3 linked regions of the Homo sapiens genome follow. The protein of the gene in region 3 purifies or fractionates together with the protein of the main gene of each other region. This does not show direct contact. Each region holds a gene or a part of one and is shown on either strand. Other genes may lie near its edges.

Evidence for each region.
Region 1: the proteins of UAP1L1 (region 3) and TGFBRAP1 purify together in Homo sapiens (co-immunoprecipitation; one large-scale study listed by IntAct). This does not show direct contact.
Region 2: the proteins of UAP1L1 (region 3) and SDHB fractionate together in Homo sapiens (co-fractionation; one large-scale study listed by BioGRID). This does not show direct contact.

The regions. Positions count from the first base shown.
Region 1 is NC_000002.12:105,319,727-105,323,382, forward strand, and holds part of TGFBRAP1 (transforming growth factor-beta receptor-associated protein 1), read right to left. Parts: intron 1-3,656. UniProt on the Homo sapiens protein: Plays a role in the TGF-beta/activin signaling pathway. It associates with inactive heteromeric TGF-beta and activin receptor complexes, mainly through the type II receptor, and is released upon activation of signaling.
Region 2 is NC_000001.11:17,026,394-17,030,049, forward strand, and holds part of SDHB (succinate dehydrogenase [ubiquinone] iron-sulfur subunit, mitochondrial isoform 1 precursor), read right to left. Parts: intron 2,344-3,656; coding exon 2,207-2,343; intron 1,473-2,206; coding exon 1,356-1,472; intron 1-1,355. UniProt on the Homo sapiens protein: Iron-sulfur protein (IP) subunit of the succinate dehydrogenase complex (mitochondrial respiratory chain complex II), responsible for transferring electrons from succinate to ubiquinone (coenzyme Q).
Region 3 is NC_000009.12:137,080,382-137,082,798, forward strand, and holds part of UAP1L1 (UDP-N-acetylhexosamine pyrophosphorylase-like protein 1), read left to right. Parts: intron 1-307; coding exon 308-493; intron 494-1,616; coding exon 1,617-1,683; coding exon of another isoform or gene 1,684-1,791; exon of another isoform or gene 1,792-2,249; intron 2,250-2,255; coding exon 2,256-2,348; 3' UTR 2,349-2,417.

The sequences.
Region 1 (3,656 bases), on a different chromosome or scaffold from region 3:
GTAACTCCAACATTAACTATATAAATATTAGCATAATACATATATAAGATTTTAATATATATGTTTAACATATATAGGTATATATGTGTTTAATGCATATATACATATATGTATGTGTGTATATATTTGTTATATAGTGAAATATATATTTGTTATATATTGAAATATATATATTTGTTATATACATACATACATACATGTTATATACACACATACATACACACACACACACAATAGGAAACTCCTAATCTGGTACAGAGATAAATATATTCTGCCAAAAAGAATGCTATGACAAACTGGCATTTATTAAAATGGGCTCTTTACCAGTAATTATTCTTGAATCAAAGAATGACACTTTGTTATCTGCTCTACCAAATAATGTCCACCTGAGAGCCAACTTTAAGCTTGGCCTGGTGTCCTACGTGTCTGCAAAAAACCCTCACATTTTCTAATTACTTCACAGCTTATAAATGAAACAGACTCTTCAGAAACCTATGCAGCTATATGTGCACCAGAACTTCATCACCCTGGGGGAGGAACCGCAAAAACTCAGCCCTATAATAGAAGGCACTGTCCTATGAATAAGCTAAAAATTAATTCTGTATCTGCATTTTAAAAAGGACACACTACCTCAAGTAAGATTTGTTATTTTCTCATTTTACAGCAAGAAGTTTTTTTTTTTTCTTTATGATAGTCCATCAAAAATGAATAGAGATCAAGTGGTCATTCTAACATTTGGACCAAAGCCAGGTCAGATCTGAAGGCAATGCAGAAAGGAGGCAGGAATGTGGGCCACACACCTGAAACACTAGGTCATTATCCTCCTTATAACATACCAGAAGGTAGTTCCCTGCCCAAAAGATAAACTCCAGACTCAGCTTAAGAAGCACAGCCCTTAAAATTTTAACCTCAGCCAACCTTTCCTCCTTTATTTAGTAAGAAAAATTATAGCTATTAACCTATTCTTATTGTTCCATAATATCAGTCTCTTATTGTATAAGCTACAATCAGTTCGGAATTGCTGCTGAGTTCCAAAGAGCCTGTAAGTGTCCAAGGCACTCCACAAACCAAGCAGTTGTCAAAAGGGATTTCAGTAAACACTACTCTCTAGATACCTTTCCAAAGGATTAACACTATGAGTCAGAAAATAGTTACCATTAACTACAGTGGTGGGATCGAATTTAACAACGTAATAATCCCTAAAGGAAAACACACTGCCTCCTTCTCATCTGTCGCTAGTCCATATGAAAAGTAGCAACGTCTGGTGGACAAGGGCAGCCTCAGAATGGGCTCTGGGGGACGGCACAGATTCCCACACACTGGACTTCCTCTGACTGGCTGATGGCAGGGATCCTGGCTTTAGGCGTGAGTATCTTTCTTTCTTTGCATCTTCCTACAATTTACAGTTTTTGTATAAATACAATGACTTATTTATTTATTTATTTTTTTTTTTTTTGAGATGGAGTCTCTTGCTTTGTTGCCCAGGCTGCAGTGCAGTGGCACGGTCTCGGCTCACTGCAACCTCTGCCTCCCAGGTTCAAGTGCTTCTCCTGTCTCAGCCTCCTGAGTAGCTGTGATTACAGGCAGCCGCCATCATGCCTGGCTAATTTTTTGTATTTTTAGTAAAGATGGGGTTTCACTGTGTTGGCCAGGCTGGTCTCGAACTCCTGACCTCAGGTGATCTGCCCACCTCGGCCTTCCAAAGTGCTGGGATTACAGGTGTGAGCCACCATGCCTGGCCTACAATGATGTTTTTCAAGTTTCTATTTTGCCATTTTAATATAGAACTTTTATAGAAAAAAAAATGTTTCTCTGAGAAGCAGTTTCTCAATTAACCTGGATAAACATATCTACTAAGACCATGAAGCCATAGACAGATAGCAATGTCCATCACAGGGGAAAACTGAACACAGTGGCGTGCTGTATAATGACATTTCCATTAACAACAGACAGCATCTACAACAGTGGTCCCATAAGGTTATAATGGAGTTGAACAATTCCTATCACCTAGTGACAATCTAACTGTTGGAACATTGTAGCAAAATGCATCACTCATGTGTGGTGTTGCTGGCGTACACTAACCTACTGCAGTGCCAGTCGTTGAAAAGTCTAGCACATTCAATTACATACAGTATGTAGTACTTGATATAATAATAAATGACTATGTTACTGGTTTATGTATTTACTCCACTACACTTTTTATCATTATTTTAGAGCGTACACCTACTTATGCAGGAAAAAATAAGTTAATTGTAAAACAGTCCTTCAGGAGGACTCCAGAAGAAGAAATTGTTATCACAGACAACAGCTCCACACATGTTACTGCCCCCGAAGACCTTCCAGTGGGACAAGATGTGGAGGTGGATGACAGGGATAAGGATGATCCTGACCCTGTGCAGGCCAAGGCTAATGTGTGTGTGTTTGTGTCTTCATTTTTAACCAAAAAGTTTAAAGAAAAAAAAAGAAAGAAAAAACTTATAGAATAAGCATATAAAGAAAATATTTTTGTACAGCTATACAACATGTTTTCAGCTACATGTTATTACAAAGAGTGAAAAACTTTTAAAGAAGTTTATAAAGTCAAAAAGTTACAGTAAGCTCATTTATTACTGAAGAGAAGTATTTTTAGAATAAATTTAGTGTAGCCTAAGTGTACAATATTTACAAAGTCTATGGTACTGTACAGTAATGTTTTAGGCCTTCACTTTCACTTGCCACTTACTCACTGACTCACCCAGAGAAACTTCCAGTCCTGCGAGCTCCATTCACAGTAAGTGCCCCATACAGGTGGACCCTTTTTTTAGTATTTTATACAGTATTTCTACTATCCCTTTTCTGTGTTTAGATGTGTTCAGATACACACATACTTTGGTGTTACAAGATTCTCTTGTGCTTAGAGATTCAGGACAGTAGCATGCTGTATAGGTTTGCACCCTAGGAACAATAGGCCATACCCATATAGCTTAGGGTATGAAGCTATACAGGTGTATAATACACTGTACCATCCAGGTTTGTGTAATTCACTCTATGATGTTCATATGATGACAAAATTGCCCCATGGGAGATTTCTCAGACCATAACCTAGTCATTAACTGATGCATGACTGTATATCATATATTAGCTCTAAAAACCAAACCTATAAGTGAACTGACAAAAGTTGCCATAGATCCTAACAGCCTTTGAGACGGATGGGGGGCAGACAGAGCTTGGCACACTTCAGCCGTTCACAGCTCCCAATCAACCAGTCAGGATGCTGGTGCCATATAATTAGGAGAGAAAGCTAAATCACCGAGGACTCAGCCAAAAGCAAACCATGGTGGTGAGGAGGAAGGTGAAGGAAAAGGGTGGTATGCAACACAGTGGGACACCTTGCCTTATTCCCCATGTTTTTTGAGGCTGGTCCTGAGAAGTTTAAGAGAGAAAGACTCAGAAGCATGCATTGGAGGCCAGTTTTCTTGTGGTCCCAGTGATGGTGGCTCTTGTGACGCCTGGATGAGGAGGGAGAGCCTGGAAAAGTCAGGTGGTGACTTCAGTAGAGGGGGCGGGGGGATGTGCTGACACCCACCTCTGGCTTTGTCAGCTTCCTGAAACAGAAACAGCGTGGGCAGCTGCCAAGGGACCTGCTGCTCAGCCTCTATCTCTGCGACCCCTTGGGA
Region 2 (3,656 bases), on a different chromosome or scaffold from region 3:
TTGCTCTGTTGCCCAGGCTGAAGTACAGTGGCACAACCTTGGCTCACTGAAACCTCCACCTCCCGGGTTCAAGAGATTCTCCTGCCTTGGCCTCCTGAGTAGCTGGGATTATAGGTGTGAGCCACCACACTCAGCTAATTTTTGTATTTTCAGTAAAGATGGGGTTTTATCACGTTGGCCAGGCTGGTCTCGAACAACTGACCTCAAGTGATCCGCCCACCTCGGCCTCCCTAAGTGCTGGGATTACAGATGAGCCACTGCACCTGGCCGGACTCCCCTTTCTTAACGTTTTATGGGCAACAGGAGAGGATGCTAAATATTTACCAAGTCTCAAAAGGTAGAATTAATTTATTCATTCATACAACTGATACTTTTCATATATTCACATATATGTATATGTTTTAGAGACAAAACCTGGGCTATGTTGCCCGGGCTGGCCTCAAACTCTCAGACTCTCAAACTCCTGGGCTCAGGTGATCCTCCTACCTCAGCCTCCTGAGTAGCTGGGACTATCAGAATGCACCACTGCATCTGGCCTTTTAAAAAATTTATATATATTTTTACAGTATTTACATAACTAATATTTATGGATAAAATAACATGCGCCAGGGCCTAGGGATCCAGAAAGGAAGAAGACACAGCCATTGCCCTTGGCCCTGTGCAGACCTGCAGGTGGGGCTCTGTCTCCATTTGGTCCCCTTCCTACCTCACGTCCACAAGTATGCAGGGAGTATGCAAATCAGAGAAGACTTCTTCGCAGAGGAGTAGAAGTAGTGTAGAAGAAGAAAGACTGAAAACTTGATAATGATGCCTCCGCTTTAAGATTTTACAGCTTGTACACAGGAATGGCAACTCCCAGAGAGTGAGCAGGCCAGGAATAATCCCACCCCACAGATCACCAGAAGTATGGTGTCAGGAAAGAATATCGATGACTCTGTTTTGCCATTAACATTTCACTCCCATTTGTAAAGCAGGACGGTGGTAGTTACAACTGGCCAGCATATGTGTTTCATTTTGCCCCCAGTGAGGGAACAGTTCTGACTTAGTGGTCACTTTTTAAAGCCCAGGCAATTTACATACTGGTTTCTTTTGAAAAAGATGGAGTAGCCACACAGCAACCACCCGCCCCTGCAGGCGGGGCACAGGGCTCTAGCTCCTTGGTCCACTCTGGGCCATTCACGGGTTCACACTACTCACCCGGCCCTAAGAGGATGAGTGCCCCACCCTTGTGCCAGTTCCTCTCCAGAATACACTAAATGGCTTGCATCAGCTTATGTTCCCTGCCAAGCCACACTCCTGGCAATCATCTTTGCAATAAATTCTTCAGATTGAAACAATAAATAGGGACTAATGACCAGTTTCTCACGCTCTTCTATGGACTGCAGATACTGCTGCTTGCCTTCCTGAGATTCATCCTTCTTCTTCAAATAAGGCTCAATGGATTTGTACTGTGCATAGAAGTTGCTCAAATCCTGTGGTTAAGAGGAAGAAGAAGAAGAAGAAGAAGAAAAGGATCAGATTCCATCATCACCTCAGCTTTATTTACCCCATTTCTTGGACACTGACTACTCGTCCACTCTATGCCAGGCAGAAGCCAGACTCTTTTCCTTTGTCATGAATATATGCAAAGATTACAAAAGGAAAAATGGTCACAATGTTAAGCATGGTTAGGAAACCTCTCCCTCACCTACTTGGGAAACCTGCCAATCCCACAGTCCTTTCTGCCCTTGAAAACACCACGTCAGCAAAGGTGTTCAAATATAGGGAGGTAGAAATTAAAGTGGGACTCATAAACAGCTGTTGCTTTCCCAACTGGCATTTTCCACATGATTTCTTTGTAGTTATGGCCAAATTATTCATTTCTGGGAATGTTCCAATTCTAAAATTCTGTGCCCCATTATTCTCAAACAAACCTCACCAAATGAGCTGCTGGAGGATTTTCTAGGCGTTTATCTTCTGCCATTCAAATTCTTTAATTAAACTCTGGCCACACTGTCTCAGATCTGGAGATTTTCCTAATCTCTCAGTGACACTGTGGTCCTCCTCCTGCCATAATATAGGAAACAGTCCCATCTATTTACTATCTGACTAGAAGAGGAGCCTTAAATACTCAAACAAATCCTGCCCTGAAAAACTAATAGCGTAACACACATAGCACTGCCCCCCATGCAAATAAAAACAAAACCAGAGAGATGCAGAAACTCACGGGAACAAGATCCTTTATCACATACATGTGTGGAAGAGGGTAGATTTTTGAGACCTTATTGAGGTTGGTGTCAATCCTTCGGGTGCAAGCTAGAGTGTTGCCTCCATTGATGTTCATTGCACAAGAGCCACAGATGCCTGAAAGAGACACACATTTAACACATCCTCACCCATATCCGGAATCAGTCCTGCCCCAAATACTTTCTTCTGGATCCTCCTTGCTGTGCCATCAGGGGCAGCACTGACATGCAACATTCCTCTGACAGAGGTGCCTGTTGGCTTTTCTCCCTTCCTTCCTTCTTCCTGCCTCGAATGTGGTTCTAATGGCTTGAGTTCCAAAAACTACTCTATGACCATGTGGCAACCTTGAGGTTAGAAGCCACATGCCAAGTATGGCACTGGAGGAGGCCAGAGGCCTGGGCGCTGCTGGCACCATGGAGTTTCCACAGCAGTTCTAGCTCCATGTGTCACGTGTTTTGAAGAAAAATCAGCCTGTTTTTTTTTTTTTTTTTTTTTTTTTTTTTAAAGAAAGGGTCTCACTCTGTCACCCAGGCTGGAGTGCAGTGGTGCAATCACAGCTCACTGCAGTCCTCAATGCCTGAGCTCAAGTGATCCTCCCACCTCAGCCTCCTAAGTAGCTGGGACTACAGAAGTAGCCCACCACACCCAGCTAATTTTCTGGTATTTTTTGTAGAGACGAGACTTGCAGAGACAGGGTTTTGTTATGTTGCCCAGGCTGGGCTTGAACTGCTGGGCTCAAGTAATCTGCCTGCCTTGGCCTCCCGAAGCACTGGGATTACAGGTCTGGGCCACCACACACCCGTCAAGCCTATTTTTTTTTTTTTTCTTTGAGAAGGAGTTTTGCTCTTGTTGCCCAGGCTGGAGTGCAATGCCGCGATCTTGGCTCACTGCAACCTCCGCCTCCCCAGTTCAAGTGATTCTCCTGCCTCAGCCTCCTGAGTAGGGGTGGGTGTGGTGGCTCACGCCTGGAAACCTAGATTTTTTAAAGCCACTGTTATTTGAACACAAATCTAACAGACACAATACCCAAAAGTAAAGTAAATCAACATTGTCTTGGTCATCTTAAGGTTGAAGTGACCTGGATACAGATTATTAAGAGATAGCTCTTCTTCTTTTTTTTTCTTGGCTGAGTCTTGCTGTGTCACCCAGGCTGAAGTACAGTGGTGGAGTCATAGCTCACTGTAGCTCACTTTAGCCTCAAACTTCTGGGCTCAAGCGATCCTCCCACCACAGCCTCCTGAGTAGTTGGGACTACAGGCACATGCCGCCATGTGCGGCGAATTCAAAAAAATTCTTTGTAGGTTGGGTGAAGTGGCTCACACCTGGAATCCCAGCACTTTGGGAGGCTGAGGTGGGCAGATCACTTGAGGTCAGGAGTTCGAGACCAGTTTGGCCAACATGGTAACCCCCTGTCTCTACTAAAAATATAA
Region 3 (2,417 bases):
TCCACTGCCCCCACCCATGGTTAGGAGAGGTCTCCTGGCCAGGTTGCCAGGGCGGCTCGCAGGGCCTTTGGCCCTCACTGCAGGGGTCCCAGGGTTGGGCCTTCGGCTGCTGGAAATGGCTGCTGGGATTGGGCCATCCCTGGCGTCTCAGGAGCAAAAACACTCAGTACCTGCGGGGGCTCCTCCCTAGACTTGCTGCCCATGGGACCAGACCTTCACTCTGTCACTGGAAACCTGGCCCAGCTCTCACCTGCCCGGATCAGGGCCTCTGTGCTGGGACGTGGGTGACTAGCCCTTTCCCCACCAGGAACTTTGCTGCCTTGGAAGTGCTGCGGGAGGAGGAATTTTCCCCACTGAAGAACGCAGAGCCAGCCGACAGGGACAGTCCCCGCACCGCTCGCCAGGCCCTGCTCACCCAGCACTACCGGTGGGCTCTGCGGGCCGGGGCCCGCTTCCTGGATGCCCATGGGGCCTGGCTCCCAGAGCTGCCCAGGTGAGTGTGGCCCTGGGGTAGCTACAGCCAGAAGGGGAGGGCTGTCAGGACCCAATCTTCAGCTCCAGAGCCCTGTTGGCTCTGCGACAGCCATGCTGGGGAGGGGTCTTCCTTCCCGGCACCACCGCAGGTGCAGGTAGCCTTGTGCCCAGCCAGCTCCAGGTCACACGGTGACTGTCGGCACAGCCTCCTGGCCCGACCCTTCAAGTTGTGCTCAGTGCACTGAGGGAGGCAGGGGCTCCCCAACTCCCTCCCCAACTTATCCACAAGGTTTTGGTTTGTTTACAAAGGCATACTTAGATTTGGCTTTTATTTATTTATTTTTATTTTTATTTACTTTTTTGAGATGGAGTCTCGCTCTGTCGCCCAGGCTGTAGTGCAGTGGTGGGATCTCGGCTCGCTGCAAGCTCCACCCTCCCCCGGTTTCCGCCATTCTCCTGCCTCAGCCTCCTGAGTAGCTGGGACTACAGGCGCCCGCCACCACGCCCGGCTCATTTTTTTGTATTTTTTTTTTTTTTTAGTAGAGACAGGGTTTCACCGTGTTAGCCAGGATGGTCTCAAACTCCTGACCTGTGATCTGCCCGCCTCGGCCTCGCAAAGTGCTGGGATTACAGGCGTGAGCCACCTCACCCGGCTATTTTTTTATTTTTATTTTTCTTATTTGTATACATTTGTGGGGTGTGTGTGCAACTTTGGTCAGTCAGGTCAGGGCTTTTAGGGGATCCATCACCCAACCAACGTTGTTCCCATTTATTCACAGGCTTTGAAACTGAGCCCCGGGCATGAATTTAGAAAGTAGCAGGACAGTTTGATTTCAGGGCTGGGAAAGAAAAGGACGTTTGGCTTCCATCTCCCTGATTTTCTAGGGCCACCCCTAAATCTAGCTGCCTAGGCTCTGCGTGGGAGGCCTGTGGGGGTGCTTTCTACCCCAAATCAGGTCCTGTCACTTGGCAGTGGGATGTGTGCTCAGGGTTTGGGGTGTCCAGAGGAAGATGAGCTTGCTGAGACAGGAGCTGTGGGGAGCCAGGTGTGTAGAGCTCAGTCTCCTATCGGGACTGGGGGTGCTGGGGGAGGGCTCTGGGCAGGTGCTGCAAGGAGATATTGACAAGTGGACTTTCCCTAGCTTGCCCCCAAATGGAGACCCTCCGGCCATCTGTGAGATATCGCCCTTGGTGTCTTACTCTGGAGAGGTGAGAGCTGCCCATCCCTATCTGGGGCTTTTCTGGTGTCAGGTTTGGAATACCATCTGGGGAGAGGTGGCTGCTCGGGTGGAGACGGCACAGCTCTACCTCGGTTAACCAATGGGGTCGGTGGTTTAAATTTGCAGAAGACTTTCCAAGATATGGGTTGGGGTGGGGTGAGGCATCCAGAGGCCTTTGCAGGTCCTGGGAGGGCATGGGGATGAGACAGCCCAGGTCTGAGCCCAGTGTGGGGCCAGTCAGGCCTTGGTGGGGGCCTTGCGGAGGGAGGACACCGGCCTCTGCTACCTCCCTGACCTCGGCTGCCCTTGCCCCTTTCTCTGGTCAGGTCAGACCTGTGCGTGACAGGAGGGTCCCCTGCTGGCCTAGGGTCTTGAGTGTGGTCTTGGGTGGCCTTGCAGTGTGTGTCTGCTCCTGGCCCTGGAAGCCTTTCTGTCCCCACCCCTCCCTGACTCCAGGCAGACCTGGGATCGCACCTGGGGACTGTGGCTCTTGGTGTGGCCAGAGGGGCTGTGACCCGCCAAAAGGTGGGTACTTGGCCATTGTCCCCTGCTCGTCTCCAGGGTTTAGAAGTGTACCTGCAAGGCCGGGAGTTCCAGTCCCCGCTCATCCTGGATGAAGACCAGGCCAGGGAGCCGCAGCTGCAGGAGTCCTGACCCGCCCAGACTGTCCCCAGACTCCCCCGAGACCTGCCAGCCCCGGCATCCTGGAAGTCCCGACTCCCC